Linked DNA regions of Homo sapiens: region 2 is linked to region 1. The links come from fine-mapping of genetic effects on gene expression. A gene starts in region 1. The other region holds a variant in brackets. All regions are shown on one strand. Distances are between the middles of the regions.

The links. PIP is the estimated chance that this variant, and not a neighbour inherited with it, causes the effect.
Region 2: its variant is fine-mapped to the expression of OSTF1 in blood mononuclear cells (TOPMed, PIP above 0.99). The same link has a PIP of 0.9 or more in T cells, monocytes and whole blood.

What each region holds. Positions count from the first base shown.
Region 1 is chr9:75,087,324-75,090,082 of GRCh38, forward strand. It overlaps OSTF1 (osteoclast stimulating factor 1), which reads left to right and starts at 1,191. Exons shown (of 10, transcript NM_012383.5): 1 at 1,191-1,403. The coding sequence starts at 1,370. It overlaps NMRK1 (nicotinamide riboside kinase 1), which reads right to left and starts at 832. Exons shown (of 9, transcript NM_017881.3): 1 at 685-832. RefSeq lists silencers at 702-1,301, 1,492-1,581.
Region 2 is chr9:75,148,714-75,151,730 of GRCh38, forward strand. No RefSeq gene overlaps it. Among named protein-coding and RNA genes, the nearest start is that of OSTF1, 62 kb to the left of the region's middle. The variant C/T (reference allele first, on the strand shown) is at 1,207.

The sequences.
Region 1 (2,759 bases):
GCCATTGGCTTCCTTGTGTGCTCCAGTTCTTTCCTCCCACCGAAGATTCAATCCGATAGATCAGGGGTAGGAAAACTTTTTCTGTAAAGTGCCAGACAGGAAATGCTTTGGGCTTTGCCAGCTGCTACTCAACCCTGCTGGGTAATGCGAAAGCGGCCACAGAAAACACAGATGCAAATGAGCGTGACCGTGTTCCAGTAAAATTTTACGGACACTGAAATCGTAATTTCATGTAATTTTCACGTGTCACAAAGTATTATATTTCTTTTTATTTCTTTTCAGTCATTAAAAAAAGTAAAAAAAAAAAAAATTCTTAGCAGGCCTTACAGTAACAGGCAGCAGGCGGGCAGTAGGTCATCACCCCAACGCTAGAGGAATGAGACCATATCGATCCGCGAGGATCAAGTCCTGATCCTGTCCCTGGCGACTTCTCCAGGCTGCGCGGTCTCTTGGAGGCAGCGTTCCCATTTTCAGGATTATTCCGGGGCGCTAGAGCACCACGCCACCATGAGTACACGTCCTCCTCGGCAGGCCACCTATCAGCTCTGTGAGGGTGGCAAGAGTCCAGGCAAGGCTTTCAGGGCGCAACCAAGTCCCGGGCTCCAGCACAGAAACCCTCTGGAAACACCTCCAGGCCCCAGCAAGGCGGCGCGGCGCGGCAGGGGCGAGCAGGTACGCACTCACCTGGCGCCAGTTCGAGTCCTCCCAAACACAGCGGCAGAGGCGACAGCCAAGCGCGCGCCTGTACCCAGTGCGCCGCTACCCGCAGCTCGCTCCCCGAGAGGCCCACAGCCCCTTTCCCCACGCTCCTCCTGGGTTAGAGGGATGCCAGGTAGGGGCGGTCACCAGAGGCCCCTTTTCTCTACTCTCGGCGCCGGGTTCCAGCCCCCGTTGGGGCGGGGCGGGGCGGGGCGGGGCTCCGGCTAGCTTGGCCTCTTCCGCGCGCCCCTGCGCAGCTCCGGCCCTTCCCTATCGGGAGCGCGCGCGGCCCGCGGCACTGCACTGGCGCACGCCCGCTTCGCCCTCGCTCGGCTCCGGCTGGTTCCGCCGCCGTGCGCGCCGCCCGCGCTCCTGCTGCGGCGAAGCTGCCAGCCCGGGAGCCAATTAGCGCTCGGCTAGGCGGGGTCCACTTCCTCGTCGGCCCGGCGCGCGCTCTGGACTGCTCCGGCGGCCGCGGGGCGGGGCGGAGCACTCGGCGGAGCCGCTCTGCCTGCGTCCGCTCTTCCCGCAGCCAAGGGTGGGCGCCGGTCCTAGGAGGCGCACGGTTGTAAGCCAGACAAAAAGAACTGGGGTGCCCGGAGTGCCAGGTGGCGGGCAAGCGGTGGGCTTTTCGGCGGGGTCTTTAGGATTTGCAGCTCCAGGAAGCGAGATGTCGAAGCCGCCACCCAAACCAGTCAAACCAGGTGAGGGAGGTAAGGTAGGCGCTTGCCAGGTCCTGCGACCGCCGCGGTGCCGGCGCCTCCTCTGCAGCTTGGCAGGGAGGACCCGGCGCGCACCCGGCCCCGAGCCTGGCTTCCGAGATCGGCCCCACCGGGATGGGCGCTCTTAGTTTTGCGTTCGCTGTTACGGAGGAGGGATCGATTTTGATAGCAAGAGGATTTCGAGGATTAATATATATATATATATTTAAAGGGGAGTAGCCCTCACTTTTGCTACGTTGTCATTCGCTGAAACTTTCAGAGGGTGTGATGGCAACGTCCCATGGAAGTTTTCCGGAAAGACAGGGCCATTGATCTCCCTTTAAAAAATGTCATGAAATGATCTTTAGCCACTTCCTCTTTTCTCAGTGTTTGTCACTGTCAAGTTAGGGTTCCTGACCGGCCAGAGCGAACGGGAAGTGCAATCCCTGCAGGGTGGGGTGGGCGAGCGAGCCTCCCTCGGGACTTAAGCGTGGAGCAGCGTTTGAAATTGACCTCGGGATCTTGGGAAGAGCGTTTAGAAAAAAACCCTATACTCGCGCTCCTGGTGGAAAGAATCTAGGATGCGGCAGTGATCTCAGCTGTTGCTATTTGGAAGTGTCATTTTATCATCTCCTTTGCCTTTGCTCTCCCAAAGACGTTGGCGTGCTAAACCTGAGAGGGCTGAGATTACTAAATTCCTCAAAGCAGTTTTCTGGGCGGATTGTCCTTGTTCATTTTTGCTCTGTTCTTAGAATATTTTCTGTGATATGCAGAAATAAGATAATTGTAAAAGAAACTGACGTATTTTAATTAAAAGTTGTAACATACTGTTCCGCTCATTCATTTGGGTAGGTAATTAGAAAGGACTGACGTATTTCAATACTTTAACAACTCTTACGTGCATTCATTTGGGTAGGTAATTAAGGGAAATACAGGAAATGGAAGATAAATGGCTCCGATGTATTCTTGGGTTTTTTCTTCCCATAGTGTAATTTCGGTATAGCGAAATGCTGAAATTTAATCCATTTACGTCAAATTTTGAAGTAACTTTCTTTGCAAGAGATGAGTTTCAGTGATTACTTTTTTCCTTGATTTTCCTAAACTCTATAGCTTTCATACTTATCTAGTTTTGTTTCTTTGCGTTCCTGCAGTTGGAGTATGAAGTCCCTTTATTTGATAATCATGTACGTACGTATGTGGAATAGTGCTTCACTGAGGACTGACATCTTGGTGGGCTGAGTGTGAAGGAAGTTGCTGAGACTGGCTCTGCCCTGGGCAAAGATGGGGCACAGCTAGAGTTGGGTTCTGCATTGCATTAGATGTGGAATCTGATGAGAAATTTCCATTTTAAGTGCATAT
Region 2 (3,017 bases), 62 kb after region 1:
TTTGCCACTGCTCTGACTGTGCAGAGGAGAGCTCTGATTATGTTTTGGAAATAACTTCAGAGGTTTTGCTGTAATCTGAGCTTGCTGACAGTCACTGTGGCCTGAACTCCTTTCTAGTGATTGCACCCTTTAAATAGGAAATGCCTTCCAGCTACTTGGGCAGTGCGATACTTGTTTAGTTGTAGGCCCAGGAGCCTCATGCAAAGAAAAATTCTTATCAGAGGTTCCCATTTCAGTTTTCTTTCTGGGCTGTTCTGTTGCACATTTTGTTGTTGTTGGGCTGACATGTATTACAGCATTTCTTTATAAGCCCCCATGGCTCCTCTTTTCAGTAGATTAATTATGTTATTACTCAAAGGGAAATGTTGAACAAAGCAATGGCGACTCCATTTTATTAATCTTAAAAAAAAAAAACTGGAAATAGGCCAGGCACGGTGGCTCACGCCTGTAATCCCAGCACTTTGGGAGGCCGAGGCGGGAGGATCACCTGAGGTCAGGAGTTTGAGACCAGCCTGGCCAACATGGTGAAACCCTGTCTCTACTAGGAAAAAAAAAAAAAAAAAAAAAAACTAGCTGGGCATGGTGGCGGGTGCCTGTAATCCCAACTACTTGGGAGGCTAAGGCAGGAGAATCGCTTGAACCCGGGAGGCGGAGGTTGCAGTGAACGAAGATTGCGCCATTGCACTCCAGCCTGGGCAATGGAGACAGACTCCATCTCAAAAAAAAAAAAAAAAAAAAAAAAAGGAAATAATGCTGAAAACGAAATTTTAGGTAATTTGCAGATAATTTTAAAGATGGAAATGTAATTTTTCCACATAAGCCTTCTTCATAAATGTTTTTTATTGTGTAGAGTTTCTGATTTACTAATTTTCTTATTGTGAGCACTATATTTATCATCTTTGTAAATGATGATTTCTTTTCTGATAGGCTGTGGAACCTAACATTTACATCTGATTATCTGCCTTCCCTATTGACTCAGACTGTGTATTTTTTGTCTTGATTTTTATATTGTAAATATGTATATTGCAGGAAAAGATTGTATAGCCAAACTTTGAAGTGTCCAATTACTAAAAGTTGAGGTTTTAGTGGGAGAAATATTGTAAAAGATTCTGGTATTCCTGTTTGCAAATATAGCTTTGGTGAACAGTTTTCTCATGTGAAGGAAAAATTGCAGACCACAAATTTGTGGCTTCTGTTTCCTTATTT[C/T]TCAATAACAAGCTTTTACATCTGCCCCTCCCTTAAAATGACATGAAATTAAATAAAACTACCATTTATGAAATGTCTACTCTTCCAGTGCCTGTGCGAGACATTTTCACAGACATGATGTCATTTGATCTTTGCAGTAACCTTAGGCGAGGAATGTTAATGCCCCAACTTTTTACAGAGACGCTGAGGTTTGAAGAAGTGAAGGAACTGGTTGAAGGTGGACACACGGGTCTGGGGAACCCACGCGCTATTGCCTGCTGCAACAGTCAGATGTCATCATTCACATTCTCTCAGAAAAATCTGCAGAAACAGGACAGCTTCTTTCCAACGGAAGCCCTTGATATAGGCATCTAACAAATTCAGCATATCTGCTAATCAATTCATAATTTATTTAAAATGACCCTAAGCGCTTCCAGAGAAATTTTCACCAAACTTTTAGTTCCCAGTAACCCTAAAGAAATATTTAATGAAGCAGGTTTTACTCCCAAGTTTCCAAAATTTCCTACTCTGTACACATTAGAGTATGAGTAAGTATAAGAGAAGGAAAGCTTAGATCAGCACCTATTCATTTTGCTTTGAGTTTACATTGCTAAGTTCAGCAGTTCTCTCAGAGAGTCTGAGAGCTCCTCACTTCTGTGTAACCATGAAAATAAATGCATCCCTTGGAAGGGTCAGGGGATGTGGTCTTACCTGAGTCTGGGAGCTCGATGTGTACATGGAGGTAAGTAACTTCACAATTCCCAGGCAGTGCTGCTGTGTCTGTCGCCAGTGGCCAGCGGCTTGGGTTTCCCAGCAGGCTCAGCCCTGTGGGCAACTGGGAGCCACAGGGAGGCCAGGTTCCTCGCGGTGCCCGGAAAAGAACACTGAGGAAATCCAAAGGTATACATTAGACAGCCTGACAGGAAGCAGGAAGGAAAGTGGAAGGAATAGACAAGGAGTGAAGAGGCTGAGCCTCAAAGGAAAAATGGTTACCTTTTCTAAATGACCCATAGTTCTGACAGAAATTAGTAGAATGCTTCGAGAAGTGGTGAGGGGTATGGGCTTTGGAATCACACTGTCTGGATTCAAGCCTGATTCTGCTGAGTGACCTGCGACAGGTTACCTAAACACCCAGATTCCCTAGCTGTGCAGTGGAGGAAGTGGTAGTATCTACTGCCTAGAGTTAGAAGGATTAAATAAAATCATATATGCAAATGACTTAGTTCCTGAAAAACTCTACTACTGAGCAGTTGCTCAGTTAATGTTGGGTATAACCATGAACAGGGAAGTCTGCATTAAAACCAGATATGTGTGTTATACAAAGGAGTGTGTCAACACGTTTTTCAGTTTCACCACCAATATTGAAGAGCAGAATTTCCTAAAATACTTTAAAAATGAGTGGAGGACAATGATGTTGCCTTCCAGTCATTTAGGTTTCTTCATATGTGGTAGTAGAGTTTTTCTTTTTCTTCTTCTTTTTTTTTTTTTTTTTTTGAGATGGAGTCTTATTCTGTTGCTAGGCTGGACTGCAGTGATGCGATCTCAGCTCACTGCAACTTCCGCCTCCCAGGTTCAAGCAATTCTCCTGCCTCAGCCTCCCGAGTAGCCAGGACTACAGGTGTGCACCATCACGCCTGGCTAAGTTTTGTATTTTTAGTAGAGACAGGGTTTCACCATGTTAGTCAGGCTGGTCTCGAACTCCTGACCTCAAGTTATCCACCCGCCTTGGCCTCCCAAAGTGCTGGGATTACAGGCGTGAGCCACTGTGCCCGGCCGAGTTTTTCAATATAAATGTACTTTATTTGAGTTACAGAGAAGAGATATATAACTGG